Linked DNA regions of Homo sapiens. The protein of the gene in region 1 interacts with the protein of each later gene in a pairwise test. Each region holds a gene or a part of one and is shown in the gene's direction. Other genes may lie near its edges. The genes, in order: TRIM74, PHYH, PSMF1 and TASOR2.

Region 1 (7,026 bases):
TGTCACTGCAAATGACCCTGCAGATGGCCCCTTTCATGCTTGTCTCCAAATTTGAGTAAAAAATGTAGACACACACACACACACACACACACACACACACACACGTATCTTCAAGGGACCAGTTTTTTCACTGCAGTCTTTTGTTTTACAGCTGTGGAAACTGAGGCCCAAGGTCATGTGGGTTAGGACTGGGATCCAGGACTCAAAGTGTTTCTTATAAAATTCTGGTGCTCCTTAGGGTTGAGGGTGGTGGGTGAGTGCTGGACAGGGGGAGGGGAGTGGACAGGACTGAGGTCGGATGCCTGTGTTTCAGCCCGGGCAGTGAGTGTGGATGGCTTGGCAGGTGAGCCTGCTGGAGCTGGAGGACTGGCTTCAGTGTCCCATCTGCCTGGAGGTCTTCAAGGAGTCCCTAATGCTACAGTGCGGCCACTCCTACTGCAAGGGCTGCCTGGTTTCCCTGTCCTACCACCTGGACACCAAGGTGCGCTGCCCCATGTGCTGGCAGGTGGTGGACGGCAGCAGCTCCTTGCCCAACGTCTCCCTGGCCTGGGTGATCGAAGCCCTGAGGCTCCCTGGGGACCCGGAGCCCAAGGTCTGCGTGCACCACCGGAACCCGCTCAGCCTTTTCTGCGAGAAGGACCAGGAGCTCATCTGTGGCCTCTGCGGTCTGCTGGGCTCCCACCAACACCACCCGGTCACGCCCGTCTCCACCGTCTGCAGCCGCATGAAGGTGGGGAGTGAGGGTGCAGGCGGGGCGGCGGGGCCCGCGGGGACTGGATCCTGTGCTCTCTGGCGCTATCAACTGGCACCAAAACGGATCCAGCTATCCTCGATTTCCCTGCAGCCCTGCCCTGGCGCATTCATTCCTTAGTGTTTGAGCGGCAGCTAAACCCAGGTGCTGGGGATTGAAGCTACACGCACAGGATGGGAGCTCCCTGGTGTCACGTGCTCACCCCTTCCTGTTTTTTGTTTGCAGTTCTGGTTTGTTTCTTTTTCTTTTTTTCTTTCTCTCTCTCCCGCCCCCTTCCCTTCCTCTCTCTCTCTCTCCCCCTCCCTCGCCCGCCCCCCCTTTCTTTTTCTTCTTTCTTTTTGGAGACAGCGTCTCACTCTGTTGCCCAGGCTGGAGTGCAGTGGTGTGATCATGGCTCACTGCAGCCTCCAACTCCTAGGCTCAAGCAATCCACCCACCTCAGCCTCCCGAGCAGCTGGGACTACAGGTGCACACCACCATGCCCAGCTCATTTTTTATATTTTGTAGAAATGGGGTCTGGTTATGTTGCCCAGGCTGGTGTTGAATTCCTTGGCCTCCAACGATCTTCCTGCCTGGGCCTCCCAAAGTGCTGGAATTATAGGCATGCACCACTGCCCTACGCCCCTTGTTTGTGTCTGGACACTCCCCTGTTTGCACTCTCTGGTGCATGAGAGTGGGGACTTCATTTTGTCCCCTGGTGTATTTCAGTGCCTGGAGCCATGCCTGGCACATTGTAAATGTCCAAAATGCTGAATCAGTGAATTCCTGCCTTTATAGGCCATCACCAAACCTAGCAGATCATTCTTTAAGATGAGTAATAATAATACCTGACTGGGTGTTATATATATAAAACACCTGTTATAAAACACGTGACTGGGTGGCTTATGCCTATAATAACAGCACTTTGGGAGGCCGAGGTGGGTGGATCACTTGAGTCCAGGAGTTTGAGACCAGCCTGGGCAACATAGTGAGACCCTGCCTCTACAAAAGTTTCAAAATTAGCCTGGTTGGCCAGGCGCAGTGGCCACTCCTGTAATCCCAGCATAAAGCTGGAGGGAGCATGGGTGGGGGCGAGATAGGGCCAGCGAGGTAAGCTGCGGCTGGGGCATGGAGAGGCCAGTGTGACCCGGGAATGGATTTGGAGTTTATTCACAGGATGAGGGAGAAAGGCGGGGGCTGGAGTGTTTTAAGCCAGTGATGACATGCTCAGATCTCTCTGGCAGAGGGGAGCTTTGAGGGTGAGGCAAAAGGACAGTGAGAGATGAAGGTGCCAGGACCTAAGTTGGTGGGAACTGGGACAAAGGCCTGGGGCAGACCAAAGACAAATTTCAAACAGAAAAAAACCCTGACAACTGTGTGTGGCAAGGAGGGTGAGGGATGGGGAGGTTGACTCCAGCTCTGTAATTCCCCCTTGCACAGAGGAAGTGATCGCAGGGGAGGATCCGGCGTGGGCAGGTGGAGCGGGAGGTGCCTGGGGATGTGCAGTCGGGTTGAGGGGTGTGCAGACCAGGACAGCGGTGGGGCTCAGGGCAAGAGGTGTGGAGGGTCCTTCCTCTTGGTGGTCACTGAAGTCCCCTTTGGTGGAGAAGACCAACCCAGGAGAGTCTACATAGTGATAAGGGAAGACACTGATGATGACCCCAAGGGGTACCAGGCTTAAAATCTGGATTGAGAGAGAGAGAGCCCTGAAAAAGGAATAGAAAGAATCCTCAGAGCAGGAACACCGGCTGAGTGTGGCCTCCCGGAAATCAGAGAGACAGACTGAAGGAGGAGATCACGTGTGTGAAATGTCTCTGAGGACTGAAAAGTGTTAAATGTAGCAGTAAGAACTGATTATCTTGGCAAGAGCAGGTTTAGGGGAGTATGGAAGGTGGAAGCCAACTGCAGGTGAGGAAGCCGAGTTTATGTTTTATTAGTTGATGGGAAGGAGGGAGGGAACAGGCTGGGAGATTGTCTGTCCTTTGTAGTTAGGATCCAGCAGCTCAGCTTGGGTCCCTGTTTTAGATTTGGGCTTAATTTTTTTTTTTTTGGTAGAGACAGGGTCTCACTATTTTGTCCAGGCTGGACTCAAACTCCTGGCCTCAAGTGATCCTCCCGTCTCGGCCTCCCAAAGTGCTGGGATTCCAGGCATGAGCCACTGTTCCCGGCCAGATTTGGGTTTTGATGATCCCGAGGCTCTTCTCTGTTGCAACACAGAATACAACTAAATTGCACTCCTTTATTGCCCTCTTTAAGGTGTTCCCGTTGCCTCCTGTTTATTGAGATCTTGAGATGCTCGATTGATGGGTGCATTGATTTGCATAACTTAGTTCTTCTCACGGGGAAGGAATGAGTCCCGTCTGTCTGCCTGGGGAGGGTGACATTGGAATGCTGTTCTTAGGCCTCTGTGAGATGTTCTGATGCCTCATTCTCCAGAGCAAGGACTCTGTCCGTTTATGCCAGCAAGTGCTTGATTCTTTACCCAACTCCCTTCCTGAAAGCCCCTTGCAGCTCTCTGGTGCTTGGGCACGATCCAAGCCAAAAATTCTGTACATTGCATGGGTATAAACCGACGGGGGCTCTGGTCAAGTCATGGAGTAGATGGTGGTCCAGGAGTCCTGGTTGGCACCCCCAAGGCTAGGTCAGATTTGGGGCCCGGGCAGTCCAGGAGAAGTGCATTTATGTCAGCTTGGGGAGGTCGCAAATCCGTGCTGTGTCCAAGCCCACCAGGAATGGATTCAGGTGTTTATAGGTGTGGGGATTCACCAGGTTAAACCCAGGCCCGTGTGAGCACCACTGGCCCTAGAATTAGCCTCACCTGGCGCCGGCCTTTTTGTGATGGCTCCTGATTAAATACCCACTAATTCTGGATCTGCTGGTGACCACAGAGTTCACCTGATGGGTCCCCTACAGGCAGCATTCAATCCAGGAAGTGCCAGCATCACATGGTGACTTCTGGTAGCTGTAACATTTAGTGACTGTCTCCATGTCATGCACAGGGGTGACATCGAGACCCTCTTATGCCTGGGAAGTTCCTGCTGTCAATGCAGAATATTCTCTTTTTTTTTTTTTTTTTTTGAGACGGAGTCTCGCTCTGTCGCCCAGGCTGGAGTGCAGTGGGCGATCTCGGCTCACTGCAAGCTCCGCCTCCCAGGTTCACGCCATTCTCCTGCCTCAGCCTCCCGAGTAGCTGGGACTACAGGCGCCCGCTACCACGCCCGGCTAATTTTTTGTATTTTTAGTAGAGACAGGGTTTCACTGTGTTAGCCAGGATGGTTTCGATCTCCTGACCTCGTGATCCGCCCGCCTCAGCCTCCCAGAGTGTTGGGATTACAGGCGTGAGCCACCGCGCCCGGCCCAGAATATTCTTTGAAGAAAAAAAAAACATTAGAGATGGGATTTCACTGTGTTGCCCAGTCTGGTCTCAAATTCCTAGCCTCAAGTGATCCTCCCATCTTGGCCTCCTAAAGTGCTGGGATTACAGGCATGAGCCACTGTGCCCAGCCTAGAATATTCTTTTTTTTTTTTCTTGAGATGGAGTCTTGCTCTGTTGCCCAGGCTGGAGTGCTGTGGCGCAATCTCGGCTCACTGCAACCTCCTCCTCCCAAGTTCATGCCATTCTCCTGACTCAGCCTCCGGAGTAGCTGGGACTACAGGTGCCCGCCACCATGCCCGGCTAATTTTTTTTGTATTTTTAGTAGAGACAGGGTTTCACTGTGTTAGCCAGGATGGTCTCGATCTCCTGACCTCGTGATCAGCCAGCCTCGGCCTCCCAAAGTGCTGGGATTACAGGCGTGAGCCACCGCGCCCGGCCCTTAGAATATTCTTGAATTATCTTATTTTTTATTTTTATTTTTTGAGACAGAGTCTCACTGTGACACCCAGGCTGGAGTGCAATGGCATGATCTCAGCTCACTGCAACATCAATCTCCCAGGTTCAAGCGATTCTCGTGCCTCAGCCTCCCAAGTAGCTGGGACTACAGGTGTGTGCCACCACACCTGGCTAATTTTTGTATTTTCAATAGAAATGGGGTTTCACCATGTTGGCCAGGCTAGTCTCAAACTCCTGACCTCAAGTGAAGTCCCACCTCAGTCTCCCAAAGTGCTGGAATTACAGGCGTGAGCTACTGCGCCCAGACTATTCTTGAACAATTTAACCTGTTTTGGACTCAAGGGTACCTGGGTGGCTCTGGTTCCCGCCCTGGTTTCCCTGGGAGTGCTTGTGGCCATTGGGATACTCCCAAGAAGGTGATCCAAGGAGCTGAGAAGGGGAGGGATCAGCTGCTCATGGGGCCATGGCCTGTTGCCTCCAGGAGGAGCTCGCAGCCCTCTTCTCTGAGCTGAAGCAGGAGCAGAAGAAGGTGGATGAGCTCATCGCCAAACTGGTGAAAAACCGGACCCGAATCGTCGTGAGTGCCCCTTCCCTCTGCCCCTGCCTGGGACCGGCCACCTTCACTTTCCTGTAGAGCTCAGTTCTCATTGGTCCTTTACAGAAAACCATGCCTTCCATATAAAGCCAGAACTCAAAGCATTCCGGGGCGGGGTGGGGAAAGCGCAAATCCTCTCAGGGGAATTCAACCCAGTTGTCGTTAGGACTGGCTCCAAGTTGGCTTTTGCCCTCTGTGTCCTTGAGACTGAGATAACCCAGGACTTGAGTCTCGGGGGTAAACAGCTGAAAGCATGGGCGTGACTCCTCCGCCCCTGTGCCACCTGTGTCTGCTTGACCTTGCCAGCCTGTCATGGTGCCCTCCCAGTACCTGGGTGCGCAGGCGTGGAGAGGCTGGCAGCCCTGGGCCCTGGCTGATCTCCTGAACTGAGAGGCACATGGGGCTGGGACGCATAGTGCCCCGGCCCTGGAGGTGGCTGTGAAACAGAAACAGGAGCCGAGCAAGATCCAGAAGCACTTGGCCTCCCTCATTTACCCTCCTCACCCTTGCGCGGCAGGCGGTATCAGCCCTGCCTGGTGGAGGCGGAGCTCAGGGTTCTGCAGGGAGTTCTGGCTCCCTCACAGCAAAGCCCGCTCGCCCAGGGCCTTCCTGCTTTCCTTCAGTTGTGGAACTCTGGGATATGCACATTTAATAGCTGAAATAGGCAAAGTGGGGTGTGGTGGCGTGCATCTGTAATCCCAGCAACTCGGGAGGCTGAGGCGGGAGGATTGCTTGAGGCTGGGAGGTCAAGGCTACAGTGAGCTATGATCGTGCCACTGCGCTCCAGCCTGGGCAACAGAGTGAGACCCTGTCTGTTAAAAAAAAAATTAAAAATTAAAACAGGCCAAAGCAGAGCCTCTCCATTTGAAATGGGAGCTGGGGCCACCCTCCCCACGGCCACCGCCAGGGCTCCCCATGCATGGGGTGAACTCCCTGCCCGGCGCCAGGCCATGCAGCCTCCCCTGAGACTCAGGTCCCAGGACCAACCCGGTCAGGAAGGCCCTGGGGACACCGAGGCCAGCCAGACAGAGCCTGGCAGCTCGGCTGTGACTCTGCAGTGAGCAGCCCTCCCTGTCCCAGAATGAGTCGGATGTCTTCAGCTGGGTGATCCGCCGCGAGTTCCAGGAGCTGCGCCACCCGGTGGACGAGGAGAAGGCCCGCTGCCTGGAGGGGATAGGGGGTCACACCCGTGGCCTGGTGGCCTCCCTGGACATGCAGCTGGAGCAGGCCCAGGGAACCCGGGAGCGGCTGGCCCAAGCCGAGTGTGTGCTGGAACAGTTCGGAAATGAGGACCACCATGAGTTCATCTGGGTGAGTGGACAGGGAGGCGTCCCATCCCCATACCCGCCAGGGCCTTCCCCTTCCCAACAGTGCCCTGGCTTCCCACCTTCTAGCCTTAACCTCCCTCTCTCTTGCCTTCCAGAAGTTCCACTCCATGGCCTCCAGGTAATAACCTTGGAGAGAGCTCAGCCAGGGTCTGGTGGCTGCGGGCACGGGCATCTCAGCTCCACTGGTTCCTCCATTCAGCTTAACCAGCGCCTCCCAAGCAGCTGCCTATAGCTGGCTCTATAACTGAGCCTGGGGAAGATAGAGGAAAGTCACGTCCCTGCCTTCAAGGGTCTCGCAGACAGGTGGGGAGGCAGATGGTGAACTGTGGGTACCTAGAACAGCAGAAGTTCACTCAAGCTACAGAAATACTAGAGGAGGGTAGCTCATGCCTGCAATCCCAGTACTTTGGGAGGCCAAGGCAGGAGTATTGCTGGAGGCCGGGAGTTCGAGACCAGCCTGGCCAATGTAGTAACACCCCCGTCTCTACAAAAAATACAAAAATAAAAAAATTAGTTGGGCATGGTGGCATGCGCCTATAGT
Region 2 (7,026 bases), on another chromosome or scaffold:
CACCATGTTGGTCAGGCTGGTCTCGAACTCCTGACCTCAGGCAATCTACCCGGCTCAGCCTCCCAAAGTGCTGGGATTACCGGCGTGAGCCACCGTGCCCGTCCTGTTTTGTGTGTTTTTTTTTCTTTTTCTTTTCTTTTTTTTTTTTTTTTGAGACAGAGTCTCACTCTGTCGCCTAGGCTGGAGTGCAGTGGTGCGATCTTGACTCACTGCAACCTGCTGCCTCCTGGGTTCAAGCGATTCTCCTGCCTCAGCCCTCAGCCTTCCAAGTAGCTGGGAGTACTGGTGTGCACCACCATGCCCAGTTAATTTTTGTATTTTTGTAGAGACGAGGTTTCATCATGTTGGCCAGGCTGGTCTCAAATTCCTGACCTCAAGAGAGCTGCCTGCCTCAGCCTCCCAAGGTGCTGGGATTACAGGTGTGAGCCACTACACGTGGCTTAGAACTTTTTTTGACATCAGCCACTTCAAAGGGGATTTCAAACTTGACTCCATATCACTCTCTTCAATGTAATTAATGCAACTGGTTTTTGAACATGCATTACTGCATGCTAGGTACTGTGCCCAATCCAGGGTCACAAAAGAATAAAGCACAAGGCCGGGCGTGGTGGCTCACGCCTGGAATCCCAGCACTTTGGGAGGCCGAGGCGGGCGGATCACGAGGTCAGGAGATCAAGACCATCCTGGCTAACACAGTGAAACCCCGTCTCTACTAAAAATACAAAAAATTAGCCGGGCGTGGTGGCGGGCGCCTGTAGTCCCAGCTACTCGGGAGGCTGAGGCAGGAGAATGGCGTGAACCTGGGAGGCGGAGCTTGCAGTGAGCCGAGATCGCGTCACTGCACTCCAGCCTGGGCAGCAGAACAAGACTCCGTCTCAAAAAACAATAACAACAAAGAATAAAGCACAACAGAGATGAGGATGTTATACCGCTTGCTGGAAAATAGTGTGCATAAGTACTTAGCTACCAGCAACCCGGAAGAAGGGAGTGCGGGATTTGAAGATGTGGAGCCAGTGTGTTGATTTCCAATTTGGTGTTTATCTCTCCGGGGCTGATTTTCTCTAGCATTATTTCATTTGTTTGGTTCTTCTGGGGACAGGTCATTGTTTTTTCAGGCAAAGGATAAGAATTCTGAGACCAGCTTTTTTTTTTTTTTTTTTTTTTTTTTGGTTGGGGGTGGGGGACAGGGACTCGCTCTCTGTCACCCAGGCTGTAATGCAGCAGTGCAATCATAGCTCACTGCAGCCTCGACCTCCAGGCTCAGGTGATCCTCCCACCTCAGCCTCCCAAGTAGCTGTGACTACAGGTGCATGCCACCACACCCGGCTAGTTGTTTTTGTTGTTTTGTTTTGTTTTGTTGTTTTGTTTTCTGTAGAAACGGAGTCTCACTGTGTTTCCCGGGATGGTTTTGAACTCCCAGGCTCAAGCCATCCATCTGCCTCAGCCTCCCACTTTGGGATATATTTTTATATCCCAAAGTGCTGGGGTTACAGGCGTGAGCCACTGCACTCGGCCTCGAGTATCCTTTAGTAGCAGGTTTTCTTTTCAGGCAAGAAGACGTCCCGTCACCCCCTGCACCAGGACCTGCACTATTTCCCCTTCAGGCCCAGCGATCTCATCGTTTGCGCCTGGACGGCGATGGAGCACATCAGCCGGAACAACGGCTGTCTGGTTGTGCTCCCAGGCACACACAAGGGCTCCCTGAAGCCCCACGATTACCCCAAGTGGGAGGTAGGTCTGCCCGGCGGCTGAGTCTTGATCCGAATCTCCTTCGCAGTTTCTGTTTCACATCAGTACCTCTAAAGAGTTTACAAATGAGATGGCATTTCCTTTCTGAGCAAAACATTGTCCTAAGATTTGCAGTGAGGATCAGAGAAAGTTCAAGGATGTCAGAGAAAACATTCATCACACCTATTTTCAACACTTTTTTTGTTTGTTTGTTTTTGAGACAGGGTCTTGCTCAACTCACTGCAACCTCCAACTCCCAGGTTCAAGCCATCCTCCCGCCTCAGTCGCCCTAGTAGCTGGGACTACGGGTGTGCACCACCACGCCCGGCTAATTTTTGTGGTTTTAGTAAAGACAGGGTTTTGCCATGTTGGCCAGGCTGGTCTTGAACTCCTGACCTCAGGTGATCTGTTCACCTCGGCCTCCCTAAGTGCTGGGATTAAAGGCATGAGCCACTGTACCTGCCCTTAACACGTGTTTGAAAGCCAGCCAAGGTGGGGAGCTTGGGTAGGTACTGTATAGGATCCGAGATTGTAAGTCCTAGCTGCAGAGGTAAGACATAAACCCTTCGACCCCAGATGTGTGTGGTAGACACCAAGTCAGTCTTACTCACTAACTGATGGCTCTCAGAGTAAGGAAGGAGAGATTGTCTCCTTGCAACTGCAGAGACCAGCAAAGGATCTGGGGAGGCTGGTGTCTGACCTGAGCCTTGCAGGACAGTGTACAATGTCCCATAGGGAAGAGTCGATATAGGAAGGCACAAGGTCAAGGGCAAGCCTGAACTTGACCAAAGAACAGGAAAGACCCAGGGAGCTTGCAGTCTAGATGGGCTGGGCGCTGGGGGTGTATTTTGGGGAGCAGCAGAGGAGGTGAGCCCAAAAATGTACATTAGGACCAGATTAGAAAAGACTGTTTTACTAACAAGTCTGCAGTTTATTTGGGGGAAGAATGGGAACTTTTTAGTTCAAACTTTTAGGAAGATCGAAGACCCTTTTTGTTTTTTTGTTGTGTTTTGTTTTGTTTTGTTTTTGAGGAGTCTCACTCTGTCACCAGGCTAGAGTGTAATGGCACGTTCTCGGCTCACTGCAACCTCTGCCTCCTGGGTTCAGGTGATTCTCCTGCCTCAGACTCCCGAGTAGCTGGGATTATAGGCGCGCACCACCACACCCAGCTAATTTTTGTATTTTTAGTAGAGACGGGATTTCACTATGTTGGCCAGGATGGTCCTGATCTCTTTAACTCGTGATCCGCCCACCTCTGCCTCCCAAAGTGCTAGGATTACAGGCGTGAGCCACCACACCTGGCTGAAGAGCTTTTAATTAAAAAACAAACAATTAAACAAATAAACAGTTTCATTGAGGTATAATTGTCATGTAAATTGTACATATTTTGCATGTATAATTTGATCATTTTCCACACACACATACCTGTGAAATCATCACCACAATCAAGATACTCCATCCTTCTCCCTGCTCTAGGCAACCACTGAGCTGCTTTCTGTTACTGCAGGTTAGTTTGCATTTTCTAAAATGTCATAGACATGTAATCACATAGTATAGATTTTTTTGTCCCGTTCTGGCTTCCTTCACTCAGTGTAGTGATTTTGAGGTTCATTGATGCTGTTGTGTATGATAGTAGTTTTTTGTTGTTTTTTTTTTTTTTTTTGAGACAGAGTCTCACTCTGTCACCAGGCTGGAGTGCAGTGGCACGATCTTGGCTCACTGCAACCTCCGACTCCCTTGTTCCAGCAATTTTCCTGCCTCAGCCTCCCGAGTAGCTGGGACTACAGGCACAAGCCACCATGCTCAGCTAATTTTTATATTTTTAGTAGAGACGAGTTTTCACTATGTTGGCCAGGATGGTCTCGATCTCCTGACTTCGTGATCTGCCTGCCTCGGCCTCCCAAAGTGCTGGGCTCACCGCGCCTGGCCAACAGTAGTTCTTTCCCTTCCCTTGCTGAGTAGTATTCCATTGCATGGCTGCACCGTGAACCATGGTTTGTTCATCCATTCAGCTGCTGATGCTTGGAAATGTTAAATGCATTTGAGCTCATGAGTGATGGGATCAAATCGGCTCTTCAAGGACAGTAATGTCACGTTCTGGTGCAGGACGCGTTAGAGGTATAGGCATCTAGAAGCAAAGAAACCAGAGAGATGACTATTAACGCGTTAGGTCTAAGGTGAAAAGACCCTGTGGGAGCCAAAGTGGGAGGATCGCTTGAGCCCAGGAGTTCAGGACCAGCCTGGGCAACACGGTGAGGTCTCATTTCTAAAAATAATAATAATAATAATTAGCTGGGCATGGTGGCGCATGCATGTAGTCCCAGCTATTCCAGAGGCTGAGGCAGGAGGATTACTTGAGCCCAGGAATTCGAGGCTGCAGTGGGCTATGTTGGTGCCACTGCACTCCAGCCTGGGTGACAGAGCAAGTTCCCGTATCAAAAGAAAAAGAAAAGATCCTGGGCTGGGCGCAGTGGCTCATGCCTGTAATCCTAGCACTTAGGGAGGCTGAGGTGGGCGGATCACTTGAGGTCAGGAGTTCGAGACCAGCCTGACCAACATGGAGCAACCCTGTCTCTACTAAAAATACAAAATCAGCCTGGTGTGGTGGCGTGCGCCTGTAGTCCCAGCTACTCAGGAGGCTGAGGCAGGAGAATAGCTTGAACCCAGGAGGTGGAGTTTGCAGTGAGCTGAGATCGCGCCACTGCATTCCAGCCTGGGCAACAAAGCAAGACTCCATCTCAAAAAAAAAAAAAAAAGAAAAGAAAAGATCCTGGAATCCCATGATGCTGCGAATGGAAAGAGCCCCCATTGTTAAAGCAGGGAGAATGAGTTGTAGTTCGATAGGAAATGAGGAACATGGTTTTAGGAACTCCTAACTCGTCTGGACACAGTGGCTCACGCCTATAATCTTAACACTTTGGGAGGCCGTGGCGGGTGGATCACTTGAGGTCAGGAGTTTGAGACCAGCATGGCCAAGATAGTGAAGCCCTATTTCTACTAAAAATACAAAAATTAGCCAGGCATGGTGGTGTGTGCCTGTACTCCCAGCTATTCGGGAGGCTGAGGTAGGAGAATTGCCTGAACCTGGGAGATGGAGGTTGCAGTGAGCTGAGATCGCACCACTGCACTCCAGCCTGGGCGACAGAGCAAGACTCCATCTCAGTAATAACAATAATAATAATAATAGAACGTCTCAGATTTCTTGCACCAATAATTAGTGTCAAATGAAAATATGTGAGTGTCTGGATCCTGATATAAAACCATTTAATGTGAAACTCATCAGTGAAGCCAAGGTTTAAAGTTTGGTGCATGCAACTGCAGTGGGCTTTGGCTGACAGAAGGCAAAGGGAAAAGTTTGCAGGGCTTCCAGAGCGTGTGGAGTCTCAGATACCCTGCTCAGATGCAGAGTGGGAGGTATGATTAGCTTAGTGTGGGTCACACATTCACCCTGGCCAGGAGAGAAGGGCTCTGGGTCAGAGTCTCAGCACTGTCTAAGAGGGATGTCGTCATTCCCAGAAGGAACTGGGGATGCTCTTAGGAAGAGGAATGGGCTGCTTCCCTTACCCTGACTCCTAAGGTGCTTCTCATGTCAATTTCTTTAATAAAGACATAACCGCATTACCTAAAGTAGCAACTAATTTGGGAAATAGTTACAAACAAACACAGTGTTTTAATTTACTATTCTTTCATTATTCTGGATGTAACATAAGTGCCTTTGAGCTCAGAAAAATTGAGCATTTTCTCCCCCCTATTTTGGGGAAATAGCTTCTCAGAGACACTCCTGAGTAAGAGATGAAGGATTTATTTAAAGTTCTGGGCGAGGAGGAGAACACACTGGGAACACTCACAGTTTCAGGCTGGAAATGCCCAAGAGATAGGTGGTTGCCTGCATTAACCACAAAAGGCAAAGCTAAGCTAGATCTTCATGTATAATGCAGTCATGAAGGGCAGGTGGAAATTCCACACTGTTCATTTCCTCCAAAAAATCAGTGATTTTAATATCAACATGTGACTTCTTTTTTTTTATTACCATTATTTTTCGAGACAGAGTCTTGCTCTGTTGTCCAGGCTGGAGGGCAGTGGTGTGATCATGGCTCACTGGAACCTCCCCCTCCCGGCTCAATCGATCCTCCCACCTCAGCCTCCTGAGTAGCTGGGACCACAGGCTGGCACCACCACGCCCAGCTAATTTTTGCAGTTTTTGTAGAGATGGGGTTTTGCCATGTTGCCCAGGCTGATCTCAAACTCCTGAGCATAAGCAATTCTCCCAACTTGGCCTCCCAAAGAGATGGGATTACAGGCATGAACCACCATGCCCGGCCAAAATGTGACTCTTAAAAACCAGATATCTGAGAGGCTTTTGTATACTGAAAAAAATGTAAGCATTTAATTTAGACATTTATTTCTCTTGGGAGAGAGAAATGCTTTCTTTCCCTGATGTTTGCTTTCCCTGATGAACCATTGACAATGTTTTTAATTATGGTACTCCCTCAAATGTAGACTTCACTTGCCTCTTGTTCTAGGGGGGAGTTAACAAAATGTTCCACGGGATCCAGGACTACGAGGAAAACAAGGCCCGGGTGCACCTGGTGATGGAGAAGGGCGACACTGTTTTCTTCCATCCTTTGCTCATCCACGGATCTGGTCAGAATAAAACCCAGGGATTCCGGAAGGTAAGCATTCACATTGCTGCACCTGCTGCAGAAGTGTGGGTTAGAAACAAAAATTGTATTCAATTCATTGAATTCAAATTAATTGAATAAAATTTTAATTAAATTGCATTAACATTTTAAAGATTTGTGGCTTTTAACCAACCTGGACTTTAGTCCAGTTTATTTACCAGGAAATATATTTGCTTACCTTGGGCTTTCTGTGCTCTTATCAGTAAGAAGCCAGGTGACCTCAGGATCCTAACCTTGTCAATATTGATTATGGGCCGGGCGCGGTGGCTCATGCCTATAATCCCAGCACTTTGGGAGGCCAAGGCGGGTGGATCACGAGGTCAGGAGATCGAGACTATCCTGGCTAACACAGTGAAACCCCATCTCTACTAAAAATACAAAAAATTAGCTGGGCGAGGTGGCGGGCGCCTGTAGTCCCAGCTACTCGGGAGGCTGAGGCAGGAGAATGGCGTGAACCCCAGGGGGTGGAGTCTGCAGTGAGCCGAGATCGCGCCACTGCACTCCAGCCTGGGCGACAGCGAGACTCCGTCTCAAAAAAAAAAAAAAAAATTGATTATGAAAGCCAGGTGCAGTGGCTCATGCCTGTAATTCCAGCACTTCCGGAGGCTGAGGCGGG
Region 3 (7,026 bases), on another chromosome or scaffold:
TCAGAGGATATTTGTGTTGCCTCTCCAGCCATCTGCTGTTTCCACCCTTCTGGGGGTGATAAGAAGGAGAGGAAGGTCCCAAGAGTGTATGCTTGACTATACAAGTTGACAGTTAAATGGAAAGCTAGATTGTCTGCTTTCTCTTAGGTTTTGCTTCCTCTGTTACAGGGGAATTGTGTACATAAAACTTGATTAGAAAACCAGTGCAGCCACTGGCTTCAACAAAAATCCAATACTTGAATTTGGATTTCTTTCTTGAAGTCAGAACCACTCCTCACAAGAACTTTACAGCTTTGTCAAGTGGTTTGGGTGCCAAGGGGATAGGTAAGGGATGACTTAGGTGGTTATCGACATAAGTTAGAGAATTTTGTTTTCTGTTGTGGGAAATCTAAGGATTATGATGAAAGAGAGAAAATGCCCAAAATGATCTGTTTAAGTTTCTTTGGGTGAATTTTAGTTCAGAGGCATTGGGGCAAATTCATGGCCATTAAAGAATGCTTCCAGTGCCAGGATTTTGCCTAAGAAGACAATTATCTTTATTCTCTTAGGGCCAGTCTTGTGGACCTGGCTGGGAAAAACCTTCTCTAGCCATAGCCTGGGCAATCAGGAGCTCTGAATTCCAAGCACAGCCCTACACCTGACTTGCTGAGACCTTGGGCAGCTCTCTGACCATCTCAGGCCTTAGAGTTTTCTTTTCTTTTTCTTTTTCTTTTCTTTTTTTTTTTTTTTTTTTTAATCCGAGATGTCTCACTCTGTCACTCAGGCTAGAGTGCAGTGGTGCTATCTTGGCTCACTGTAACCTCTGCCTCCTGGGTTCAGGCAATTCTGCCCCAGCATCCTCAGTAGCTGGGATTACAGGTCCCCGCCACCATGCCTGGCTAATTTTTTTTGTATTTTTAGTAGAGACAGGGTTTCACCATGTTTGCCAGGCTGGTCTCGAACTCCTGAATGCAAGTGATCTGCCTGCCTCTGCCTCCCAAAGGGCTGGGATTACAGGCAAGAGCCACCGCGCTCAGCCTCAGGCCTTTGATTTTTCATCAGAGGAAGTTAAACCACGTGACTGTGTACTTAGGCTACTTTCCAACTGTGGCTTTCTGGGACTCTTGATATTTGATGTCAGGGTTTACAGGGCAGTTGCAGACCATGTTTGGCCTGATATCGCCAGGGTCTGTCCTCTGTTTACTGGGGAACATCAATTGCACTGCAGTTAGAGATATCAGTTTCACCTGACTTCAGGGATTTTCTGTAACTCTGGAAGCCAAAGGTGATGGGGTGGTGAGCAGACCAAATTGTTTATATTCCAAGAGAGAACTCTGGTGGATTGAATGCTGTACATGGAGGATATAATATAAATTTAAAGGCGTTTGCCAGAGCAAAGATGAGGATGTCATCAAATTCCTGGCTTCCAAAGTAAACAAATCCACGACACTAAACACTAAACATATTCGGGAAATTTACCCAGTTTGGGGTGAGGGGATAGTTTCTTTTTCGCAGAAGAATGGTTTGATTAGTTTTACTTTTGTTTTTCCTCACTCTCATTTCTATGCTTCAGGCCTATGAATTTCATTGTCATCCAGCCAGGTTTTAAACCATGACAGTTGCGACATCCTGAATTTTATTTGGGATCTCTTTCCCCAGAGGATTTCTGAGCACCAGGGGTGACGAAACAGGAGAGGCCAGCAATTCTCAATGTGTGGTCTCCCCTTGTCCTTGGTGTGTGAAGTTTTGCTTTGCTGGACCTTTGTCTTTTCCATTTTCTTCATCTCCGGTCCCACTCCCTCCCGCTGTATTCTCATGACTACAGATCTTCCCAGTCCACCTGCCCCATGGTGAGCAATATAAATATACATCCATGAAAAAAGATTATAGCATTTTTTTGTGCTTTTTAAAATTTTTACATAAGTGGTACTGGAGTGTAAACCTCATTTTTTGGGGAACTTTTCTTTAAATCATATTTTTTCTTTTATATATAATACTATCATTAGATCTGGTTTATTCCTTCTGACTGCTATATAGTATTCCACTATAAGCATATTTTGCATTTTATCTCCACTTTTGCTACCTTAGCCAAGGCTATAATGAAGATCCTTTGTTATGTACCCTGTGCACAGGGTTTCTTCTGGGAGTAGGGATTTTGGATCATAGGATATTGGCTCATCTAATTGCACTAAAAACTGTCAGATTGCTCCCCGAAGGGGCTGTGCAAGTTTAAATGCCCACCAGCAGGGACTGGAGGTTCCCATTCTCCCCACACCTACACAGACATCTGGCAAAAAATAGAAAACTGGGTAATAACAGTCCGAATCATGTAACTTAGTGTCTCATTATTTCAGTTCTGCTTCTCTGATTGCTAGTAAAATTGAATAACTCTTTAGACACTATTAGCCGCTCTTTTTCTTGTTCATATCTTTTGCCACTTTTTGGAGTTCCCAATTGTTATTGTTCATTTTCCAGGCATTCCCTTTATGTAGAGGTTATTAATTTCTTTCCTTTGCAGCCATGGCAAATGTCTCTTCCTAGCCTGTGGCTCCTTATTAATTTAGTAGTGTCTCTGTAGAACAGAAGCTTTCAATTATGAACAGTGTCAAAGGCAGCATTTTCTTTTATGGATCTTGTTTAAGAAATCTTCCCCACCTAGAAATCACTATATTATTTTTCCTGTAGAAATAATTTGAGAACTATTTCTCAAACTTTAGTATGGAAAGTCTTAGGATTTTTAAAAAAGAAAAGAGGAAGACATCACAACTCACAATAAAAGATGTATTTTACACCCACCAGGCTGACAAGCATGAAAATGGCAAGCATTTTACCCCTACTAGATTGGCAAGCAATAATAGCAATGTTGCCAACTACACGGAGCAACAGGAGCTTTCATACATTGCTAGTGGGAGTATAAATCAGTAACTCTTTAGAAAACAACTTGACTTTATCTTATAAATTAAAAGCTTTTCCTCCATGCATACTGTATAGAAATTTATCCACGTGTACCAGATGTGTACAAGAATGTTCATAGCAGCATTGTTTATAATAGCAAAACAAATAAGCTGGAAATACTCCAAATCACCATCAACAAGTAGATGTATAAATTGCAGCATAGTCATACAGAATGCTGTGTAGCTGTGAATGTGAATCAGCTGTAGTTAAATGCATTGACATGGATACATTTCCAAAAACTATCAAATAAAAAAGGCAAATGACGGAAGTGATGCTGTGTATTTAAAATTCAAAAACATTTGAAGCTATATTTTTATGGTTGCATGTATAGTAATATAACTCTAAGGAAAAGTAAAGAAATTGTTTAAGAGTGGTGATTACCCTTGAAGGGGAAGGAGGGACATTTATTGGAGTATGCTACCCAAGGCTTTAGCAGTATTGCTGATGTTCTATTTCTTAAGCTGGTGGTAGAGACATTTTATAATTCTTTGTTATTTGTACATGTGCTACATTTTGTGTATTATGAAATTATAATTTTTGTACATCACTGCAGTCAGTTAGCGTGTATTCGGATCTGTGTTTTTAGTCAACACCTTGGTAATCCTATTGAAGTTAGCCTAACGTCCAAACTTTGAAAAACACTACTTAGAACTTCGCAGTGTTCCTCAAGATGACTGGCTTTATTCTTAGCAGTGGGATGGGGAAGAGATAATTATTAAACCAACACTGCAGATTCTTGACAGGTTCCAGTGCTGTGTCAGAAAGGTAGCTCAATATGAGGGAGAGCGCAGTAGAACAGAAGCCCAGAGACCTGGGCCCTAGACCTCTCTCTCGCTGTAGGATCTTGGGCAAGTCATTTCTCTTGACCTCCACATCTTCATCTGTGAAGTGAGGTGGGTAAGATTAGCTTATCTCGTGAGGTTCTTTATAGTTCTGTGTTTTGAGTTCATGATCTTTCTCCTCTCAACTGTGGTCTTCCCAGCCGGGTCCCAATGATAAGAAGTCAGAACTGCTGCCAGCTGGGTGGAACAACAATAAAGACCTGTATGTCCTCCGGTATGAGTATAAGGATGGGTCCAGAAAGCTCCTTGTGAAAGCCATCACCGTGGAGAGCAGCATGATCCTCAATGTGCTGGTGAGTCTCTGGGACACGTGAGTCTGCTGATGAGATGGGGATAGGAATGGCTGTTTTGAAACCCATTTAACGGTACGAATCCAGAGCTTCAATGTTCATGTAGCCCTTACCTAGTGATCCCACTTCTGGAACTTTATCTTAAGGTGAGAACCCTAAGTATAGAAAACCTTCGTGCACAAAGGTATCCACCACCTGGAATTAAGAAGGAGGGGCTTTCTGTCAACAGGGGAATGGTTAAATAAGGTAAATCTATTCAGTGACAAGATAGAAGGGAAAAACTTAGGTAACCCCAATGGGCTACTTCAGTTCCTTAAATAAATTGAATTCTTTGCTGCCTTGGAGCCCTTGCACTTTACATTTCCTATGCTGGAAGGCTCTTCCCCTCCCCCATCTGCCACTCACACAGCCCTTCACCATTCCTTCATCCTGGACAATTCTCTTTCATTTTTGACTTCCTCAAAAATTTCAGTTCTGACTACCCAGTCCTACTCCCCAAAAAAATCTAAATTATGTCTCTTTACGCCATCATTTTATTTTCCTGCCTGACACTCATTGCAGCTTGTAATTGTGTACTTATTTGTGCTTTGCTTTTATTCTGCCATGGGACTATAAGTGCCACAAGGACAGTGACTTTCCTTTTGTTAACTTTTTTCTTAGTGGTTTGGGTGTGACCATGTAGAAGTATCCTGCTGTATGTATTATACTGCACTTTGCTTTTTTTTCACTCGGTGTTTTGGAGGCAAGACCTTGACATGGAAATACATATAGATATACCTTATTTGTTTTAACTATTATATAGTTTCTCATAGCACCATAATTTCTTTATTCCTTTCCCTTTTGATGAACATTTAGATCTCGTGTCAGATAGGGTTCTTGGTTTCAAACAACAAAAACCTCTTGGGTTAGTTTAAGCAAAAAGGGTTTATTAAAAGAACCAGGATCACCCAGGCGCAGTGGCTCGCACCTGTAATCCCAGCACTTTGGGAGGCTAAGGCAGGTGGATCACTTGAGGTCAGGAGTTTGAGACCAGCCTGGTCAATATGGTGAAACCCTGTCTCTACTAAAAATATTTTTAAACCTTAGCCGGGCGTGGTCGTGGGTGCCTGTAATCCCAGCTACTTGGGAGGCTGAGGCAGGAGCATCCCTTGAACCCAAGAGGCAGAGTTTGCTGTGAGCTGAGATCGTGCCACTGAACTCCAGCCTGGGCAATAGAGCAAGCCTCTGTCTCAAAACAAAACAAAACAAAAAGAACCAGGATAGCTCATTGAAACAGGTTTAAGGCTAGGTTTCCAGAAGCAGTGTCCCAAATCATGCCCCGGAAACCACTGCTGCCACCACCACTGCCCAGTATTAGATACTGGCTGATTCTGTCTGCCCTGGTGCACCCTTCTCTTAAGCTGCTGATGTGACCCCCTGGCCTCTGTGCTACCCTCATTAGCAAGATGTCTGCCCCTTGCTGGGTCTGCATCTCCGTGTTGCTCACCTGCAGATCAAAGTTGATGCATCAGTTCAACACCTCAATTACCATGCCTGAGCCCTTTTGCAAAAGAGCCTGGGAAGTAGGTGTTTTAGTCTCTGCCTTGGAAAGGCAATATTCCTAAATCAGAGAAGTCTCCAAGCCTTAGGAAGGTATTTCATATAAACAGTCCTTATATATGTCTCTGTGGACATATGTGAATATTTCTTTAGGTTGAAGACTTTGTTACTCTCCCTTCACCCTCCCACTCTTAGCCAGAAATATCCCAGTCTCTCACTTTCTATTTTCACCCATCTAGGAATATGGCTCACAGCAAGTGGCAGACTTGACCCTGAACTTGGATGATTATATCGATGCAGAACACCTGGGTGACTTCCACAGGTACTTCTAAATGATGTCTCTTCCCTGGGAAAAAGAAGAGAGAACTAATGGCAAGATATGAGGAATAGGGTGGATGTGTCCAGAAAATTAAGGAAGGTGAATGGAAGAACCTTTTATTTCTGGGCACAACTTCCTAATTTTCTTTTCTGTTTTTTATGTATTTGAAGAGGAGACTTCCATAGGAAATGCCACATGAAACAAGATGGTGCAGTCAAGAGTCCACAAGTGCAGTGGTGGCTGCAGAGTAGAGGTGGAGCCCGGGCAACTCATTCAGTCAGAGCAGACTCCTGGGAGGATGTGTGCCTCATTGGGTCCCCAACCCCAATCTCCAACTTATTTAAAAAAAAATTATTTTCTTTAGGGTCGTTTTAGGTACAAGCAAAATTGAGCAGAAAGTGCAGAGCATTCCCATATTACCTCCTGCTCCCATACACCCACAGTTTACAGCTTCCCTGTGTCAATATCCCATACATAATGATTCATTTGTTACAACTAATGAGTCTACATTGACACATCATTATTAGGGCTCAAGCTTGCTGTTGTGCAGTCTGTGGGTTTTGACAAACAGATGAGAATGTGTGTCTATCATAGTATCACACAGAATAGTTTGACTACCCTAAAAATCTGTGCTTCTCCTATTCTTCACTCCCTTTTCCCTAACTGCTGGCAACCACTGATCTTTTGACTGTCTCCATAGTTTTGCCTTTTCTAGAGTGTCACATAGTTGGTATCATACAGTAGTATGATTCTAGACCTTTTCAGCAGATAGAGCTAGGAAAATTTTTCCTTATAAGTTTAAATTGCCACCTCTGTTTTTAATATAACACTACAGGATTCTTTTTCTCTTATTCCATACTTATATCTCCCTTCTCCTGTGGTGAGAACCCTGATTCCCAGCAGCATCAATGTATTTACTTATTTATTTGATCCTAGAATACACACAAATATTTTCTGAATTGCTACATCAGTGCCTACCAAGAACAAACCTATTAAGTAAAGTTCCAAATGACTTATTTCCAGTTCTTTTTGTCTTTTAACTATGTTCCACAAAAGATGTAGGCAGAGTAGTGTGTTCCAAAGGTACTTAGATTAGTGCTTG
Region 4 (7,026 bases), on another chromosome or scaffold:
AAAGACTGCTGAAGATCCCAAAGATCTTTTGTTTATTGGATTATATCAATTGATAATTACCGTATTAGATATTAAAACTGATAAATTTGAAATGTATGTTTATTTATTGGTACCTTTAAATATAATAACCCATTACATCTTAACATATTTTATCTCCCCAAAATTAGTGACAAGAATGGGATTTTTGTACATTTTTGCAAATACGCTGAAGGTCTCCTTTAATGACTAGAGTCTCATCTGCTTTTGTATTCATTGTGTTGCCATGTATTATTTTGGTTGAAGTGCATGAAGAAAATCCAGCGTCATTCAGCTGAGTAGTTAGAAAAGAGATGAATATTTTAATAATCTTTTCAGATGATTATGTTCTTTTTTGATACTCATCAAAACCTAACAGTTTTGTGTTTTTGTTTCTGTTTTGTTTTTTAGGACAGTGTCTTGCTCTGTCGCCCAGGCTAGAGTGCAGTGATGTGATCATAGCTCACTACAGCCTCCAACTCCTGGGTTCAAACAATCCTGCCTCAGCCTCCTGAGTAACTAGGGCTACAGGCACACACCACCAGGCCCAGCTAATTTTTAATTTTTTTTTTTTTTTTTTTTTTTTTGTAGAGACAGTATTGCTATGTTGCCCAAGCTAGTCTCGAACTGCTGGCCTCTAGCAGTCCCCCTGCCTCGCCTCTCAAAGCACTGGGACTATAACATCCAGCCCCTAACAATTTGTTAAACGTTAGCTGCAGTGTAGAATTGCAAATCATATGAATGAACTTCTCATGCTCTGACATTAACATTGGCCTACCATGCACTTTCAAGGGCTCTTTTACCTACACATGTGTCATTTGGAAAACATTGGTTCACTGAATTGTGCAGCTCTTTCACATGACACATTTCATTATATAATTTCAGAAAATTGGTTGGGTGCGTGGGCTCATGCGTGTGATGCTAGCACTTTGGGAAGTTGAGCTGGGAGGATTGCTTCAGCCAGGTTTGAGACCAGCCTGGGCAACATAGTGAGACCCCATCTTTACAAAAAAAAAAAAATTAGTGGAGCGTGGTAGCACACACCTGTGTTCCCAGCTACTTGGGAGGCTGAGGTGGGAGGATTGCTTGAGCCCAGAAGGTTGATATTGCAGTGAGCCATCATCATGCCACTGCACACCTTCCTGGGTGACAGAGCAAGACCCTGTCTCCTTTAAAAAGTACAGTTTTTGGAATGGCTTTTATTGAAGATCTATTGATGATGAACACTCAGTTTTTGTTCACCTGAAAATGTCTTTATTTTGCAGCCATTCTTGAATGATGTTTTTGCTGAATACAAAAGTTGGCAATTGTTTTCTTTTAACATGCTGAAGCTCTTATTCCTCTGTCTTTTGGCTTTCATTATTGCTATTGAAAAGTCACCTATCAGTCTATCAATTCATTTTGTTCTGACTGTTTTTTGTGGGTTCTTTTGTTGTTTGTTTTGATCTTTAGCTTTTTGCTGCTTTGCTGTTAACTTGTATGTATTGGCCGGGTGCGGTGGCTCACGCCTGTAATCCCAGCACTTTGGGTGGCCGAGGTGGGCGGATCAAGAGGTCAGGAGTTCAAGACCAGCCTGACCAATATGGTGAAACTCTGTCTCTACTAAAAATACAAAAATTATCCCGGCATGGGGGTGCGCGCCTGTAGTCCCAGCTACTCGGGAGGCTGAGGCAGAAGAATTGCTTGAACTCGGGAGGCAGAGGTTGCAGTGAGCAGAGATCACGCCACTGCACTCCAGCCTGGGCGACAGAGCAAGACTCCATCTCAAAAAAACAAAAAAACAAGCATGTATGTATCTTGCTTGGGATTGTCTTCTTAAATCTGTAAATTGGAGATGTTTTTAAATGTGTTTATTCATAATTTATTAAATGTGATTTCCATTCGTGTTATTTATCTTAATGTATAAATAATTTTTTAAATTATCTACATAGTAAATATTCTCTTCTGGTCTTTTACTCTTCTTTCACTTTGTTTCCCACAGCTTCCCCAACAGACATACATTGCCAAACTTGTGGATTTTTGATAATTTTTGATAAGTTAAAAGTAAAACAGGAAATCTCTGGAACTAGTCTTTTGGAAGAGGGGGTAGAGTTTTTGACTACTCTTTTCATTTTCTTCATCATTATTGGTTTATTTAAATGTTTCTTCCATTTAGACCAATGTTGGTAAATTATATTTTTATAGTTTTCAGATTTATTGATATAAATTATACATGGTGATTTATAATTTTAGAAATATCTTCCTTGTATTTGTGGTTGTATCGTCTTTGCTTTCAATATTTAATTTTTTCCTTTTTACTTATTTATATTTGCTAAAAGATTACCTACTTTATTATTACTCTACAAATAACCAGCTTTTGCTTTTATTGCTTGGCTTAGTTGGCTTTTTTAATTTGCTTTTTAAAATTACTGTTTTTATCATAAGAAATGTATCTGGAGTGTACTTTGTTTTCTCTTAGTAAGATTTTAATTACATTTAATCGGAGAACTAAATCCCTTGCTAATATTTTGTATAAAGATTCACTACCCTCCTTGGCATGGTGAAATAGACCCTGTTTAGAACCTTTCATGTACACCTGCTCCCTCATTAGGAGAAGGAATATTCAAGATCCCAATGCCTGAGGTTTGTCCAGTTGGGGCACCTACTTTACCCTTGTGCATATCCCCTATTTATCTGTGCCCAGGACATTTTGCGTGGGCTACGTGTAGAGGTGGTGGCCATACATAGTTATCTTTATTCTGGCATAAATCAGATGTCACGTTCTCTTTTGCCATATGTAATAATCAAGAGTACCCAAAAGTGGGTCTTGAAATATAATTGTTTCTGAGAGGAACTTATTCTCAGGATATTTTTGTAAGAGGGACAAAACTACTTAACAGTGTGTATCCTTGCAATAAGTATATTAATGAATACGATACAACCATTTTATACAGGCAAAAGATGGTTTAATGCCAAAGCACAAACTCATAAACCCAGTTGATGAGGAGCCAGAACAATGGTCATTACTGTATAGAGATGTTTTAAAAAGTCACCATATAAGCTTTGAAATAATTCTAATGAAAATTATATGACCTTGAGGCTGGGCGCGGTGGCTCATGCCTGTAATCCCAGCACTTTGGGAGGCCGAGGTGGGTGGATCACAAGGTCAGGAGATCGAGACCATCCTGGCCAACATGGTGAAACCCTGTCACTACTAAAATACAAAAAATTAGCCGGGCATGATGGTGCATGCCTGTAGTCCCAGCTTCTTGGGAGGCTGAGGTGGGGGAATCGCTTGAACCTGGGAGGCAGAGATTGCAGCGAGCCGAGATCACGCCACTGCACTCCAGCCTGACGACAGAGTGAGACTCCGTCTCAAAAAAAAAAAAAAAGAAAGTTATATGATCTTGAATATAAAAAGTATGGTCTCTAAAGAATTTGTTGTTGTTTTTACATAATGTAGGAGGAAAAAAATTGTGGTGTTTATAAGCATCAGCCTGATTACCAAAAATACTTTTTGTGGTAGACTGGATTTTGAGAATGTTAAAACAATCTTCAAAAATTGAATATTAAATCCAAAAATAAGCAAGCCACAGCTAAATGAAAAAGTCATAGTACATAGGTGTAATACACTTTACTCAAGGGGTGTAATTCCAAAAAAAAAGTTTTTAAAAAAGGTAATTTGTCTCCTACTGGATATACTAAATACCTTAGTGAATTTTTTATTTTGAATAGCTCTTTGTTAATCTACATAATTGTTTATGAATTTAACTTGCTTTATAAGTTCAAATTATCCTATATGCTATACAACACACTAATGGTAATGATGAATAAGATCTACTAATTAGGCTTTCTTCTGGGCAATGCATGTGGGTATCTTAGATTGCTTAGTTAAAACATAATGAGTAAAGATGTCCTTAGATCAGGCCAAACACTTCATCTTCCCCCTGCACCTCCGTTTGATTAAATTTTTCGTAAATTTTGTTAGGGCTGCATGGCTTATTGGGAAGGGACCTCATCCCTACCCCAGGCATTGGTATCAATTTTCCTGAAGCTATGTGAAGTATTAAAAAACCATATTCAGGCCTGGCATGTTGGCTCACGCCTGTAATCTGAGCATTTAGAGAGACAGAGGCGGGCTGATCAGTTGAGGTCAGGAGTTTGAGACCAGCCAGGTTAACACGGTGAAACGCCTTTACTAAAAATACAAAAATTAGCTAGGCGTGGCGGCCCATACCTGTAATTCCAGCTACTCAGAAGGCTGAGGCAGGGGAATCGCTTGAAACCAGGAGGCAGAGGTTGCAGTGAGCCCAGATTGTGCCACTGCACTCTGTCTCAAAAAAAAAAAAAAAGCCATATTCATTATGACTTTTTAATTTTGTGACATGTATAAATACATTTTTTATTATCTACATAGTAAATTTAAAAAGCTGCATCAAACTGTAGCCGGTGAGGCTGCATAAATGATGTGGGACGAAGAGTTATAATAACTTGAGATCACTGTAGTGAAAAGAACGTGTATTTTAGATTAGACCTGAGATTGATAGATATCCTTACTAGGGGCTTGCGGGTAGGACACTTAAGGAAATTGGAGCTTGGAGTGAGCTTTGTAAAATAATACTAAAACCATCCTCCTAGTGGGGTTACTGTGTGACGTCCAAGAACTCGGGGGCAGTTGGCTTGCTGTCCTGTGCTCCGTTCTGACGACTGAGCCCGCCCAGGTCTGCAGGGTCCTGGGGTCCTGCGGGTTCTGTAGGGTTCCCTGGTGTGTGGAGTCCCTACCCGCTACAAGCTCCGTTGGGTCTACGGAGTGTGCGGGGATCTCCCAGCCCTGTTGGCTGTACGGGCTCAGTGGGGTTTGCAGGGATCCCCTCGTTCTGTGGGGTCCGTGGGCGCCGAGTCAGGGCCATGCCCCTGGGCTCCGCTCGCGGAGCCGGCGTCGCCCTTGTTGACTTTCAAAAGGCGCCGCCGGCCCCGCGCCCTACACGCTCAGCACGCCCTGCGCGGAGTTCCCCGCTCTGGCGCACTGGCCTTGGCTGGCGGGAGGGGGCCGGAGGGGCTGCCGGCGGAGCAGAGACACAGCCACCCTCCCCAACACACCATGAGGTGAGTCGGGGAGGGGCCTAGGTCTCCCACATGCTGTTGTGGGAAGCTCTGACCCCCGCTGTGCCTGGGGCGGGCTCACCCACGGAGGTGACTGTTAATACAGCGCTGAGTGCGAAGGAGACCCGAGAAAATGGGCCTATTCTGTCTAGTAACGTTTTACCTTCTGGTGAGGGTGTGGGGAGAGAAGCTTTGGCAGGGTCAGTGAGGCCCCGCAGCAGAGCCCTGGTGATGAAAGACACTTTTGTATGGTACCCGAAGGCTTAACTTCACTCCTGATTGTGAGTGGATTGTGTGTGGTAGTGGTGGAGCCCTTGCAGAACCGCCAGAGAGACGGTGCTAGTTGTGTGTGTGCCTATGTAAACCTACAATAGCTAAGGTCATCTTTTGAAATGTAGAACAGGGATTGCACATTGACTTTGCGCTTCAAGTATTTGCAGGTTATTACCTTAGTTTTTACTCCCTTTGTGCGTGCCGTGATTATCTTGGTTTAAACTCGTATGTGGCAAGAAATTTTTTAATGAATGTTTAAGTTTCTGTGAAAATTGTGTATTTCTCAAATTGTATTTTTTGGCTTTTAATAGGGTCACTTTGTTTTCTGGGTCTCTGTTTTGACTTACGGGAAATGCTATTTGTTTTCTCTACATTTTCTTCATTTAAAAAAAACCTGTAACTTCAGGAGTTCAAGACCAACCTGGGCAACCTCATCCCTGGAGGAGGGGGGAACCCCCACAAAACCACAACTATAACTGGCTGCTACTTAGGACTACAGGAGATCTTTTTTCCAAAGTGGAAATAGCTTTATTTCACCCAGATTATGTTTATTTAAAATTTCAGATAATATATAAAGCTGTAAAAAGTAAAGCAAAAACTACCTGTACTTGTCCCATCCAAAGATAACTTCATAGAATATTTGATTATCTACTGTGGTGCTAGGAGCTCTGTTGGACCCTGGGGACTTTGGTGAACAGACAATGCCTGCCTCTATAAACCTTACATTCTGCTGGGGAAAATAGACCTCTCCCAACCCACCAAAAAGTAAATTTATAATAATTCCATGTTCTAATGCTTTAAAGAAAACACTTGCAGCAGGGTAATCCGAGGTTTATCTGAGTGGATGACTTAAATAGATGTCACTAAAGGAACAGAAAGAGCTCAACCATGGGAGGAATGGGGAGAAAAAAAAAAGAATTCTGGTCAGAAATAACAGCATGCACAAAGGCCTTAAAAGAGGAAAAAGCTATAAAAAGAAAAATCCATGTAGCTGCCACTCAGTAGTAAGTCAGGGAAAAGTAGAGCAAGATGAGGTATAGGAAATTGGCAGGGACCAAATTTTACTTGTCCATGGCCAGGAGGGTGTGTTTTGTGTTCTGAGGGCAGTGAGAGGGTACTGAGGGGCTTTAATTAGAAATAAAGTGATCTGGAAAACTAATTGATTAATTTGTTAAGTAAATATTTATTGAAACCCTACTGTATAACAGGCACTGTTCTGAGCACTGGCATACAACAATGAAAAGGACAAAGCCCTGTATTCATGAAACTAATCTAGTGGTTGGAGGACAATCAGATAAACAAGAAAAAATACCAGATATTGATAAGTGTGCAGAAGATGACCATTGTTTAAATTGTGGTTTATATTCTTTAAGATATGGTATATTACACATATACTTCTTTTGGAACTTTCTCCTGAATAATTTATGGTAGGACATTTTTCACTGTTACTAAATAGTTTTCTTTGGGGGCATCTTAATTTGTTTTTGGATTAAGTATGGTAAAAAATAGCATGCATAAATGAAGAAATACTGTGCAGCAACAAAAATTTGCATGTTACAAAGCATCTGGTGAACGTTATATAGTAACTTCCTTTTGACAGTCTGACATGTGGCTCTCCTACCCCCATCCCAGACCCCAGCTGCCCCTTTGTGGTTT

What was found.
Region 2: the proteins of TRIM74 (region 1) and PHYH interact in binary tests that used the Homo sapiens proteins (3 or more experiments, as listed by UniProt).
Region 3: the proteins of TRIM74 (region 1) and PSMF1 interact in binary tests that used the Homo sapiens proteins (3 or more experiments, as listed by UniProt).
Region 4: the proteins of TRIM74 (region 1) and TASOR2 interact in binary tests that used the Homo sapiens proteins (3 or more experiments, as listed by UniProt).

What each region holds. Positions count from the first base shown.
Region 1 is NC_000007.14:72,959,463-72,966,488, reverse strand, and holds the end of TRIM74 (tripartite motif-containing protein 74), read left to right. Parts: intron 1-313; 5' UTR 314-331; coding exon 332-730; intron 731-5,043; coding exon 5,044-5,139; intron 5,140-6,237; coding exon 6,238-6,468; intron 6,469-6,580; coding exon 6,581-6,607; 3' UTR 6,608-7,004; downstream 7,005-7,026.
Region 2 is NC_000010.11:13,283,065-13,290,090, reverse strand, and holds part of PHYH (phytanoyl-CoA dioxygenase, peroxisomal isoform a precursor), read left to right. Parts: intron 1-1,549; coding exon 1,550-1,731; intron 1,732-6,251; coding exon 6,252-6,401; intron 6,402-7,026. UniProt on the Homo sapiens protein: Catalyzes the 2-hydroxylation of not only racemic phytanoyl-CoA and the isomers of 3-methylhexadecanoyl-CoA, but also a variety of other mono-branched 3-methylacyl-CoA esters (with a chain length of at least seven carbon atoms) and straight-chain acyl-CoA esters (with a chain length longer than four carbon atoms).
Region 3 is NC_000020.11:1,121,582-1,128,607, forward strand, and holds part of PSMF1 (proteasome inhibitor PI31 subunit), read left to right. Parts: intron 1-3,916; coding exon 3,917-4,069; intron 4,070-5,844; coding exon 5,845-5,927; intron 5,928-7,026. UniProt on the Homo sapiens protein: Plays an important role in control of proteasome function. Inhibits the hydrolysis of protein and peptide substrates by the 20S proteasome. Also inhibits the activation of the proteasome by the proteasome regulatory proteins PA700 and PA28.
Region 4 is NC_000010.11:5,687,819-5,694,844, forward strand, and holds part of TASOR2 (protein TASOR 2), read left to right. Parts: intron 1-4,979; exon of another isoform or gene 4,980-5,095; coding exon of another isoform or gene 5,096-5,100; intron 5,101-7,026.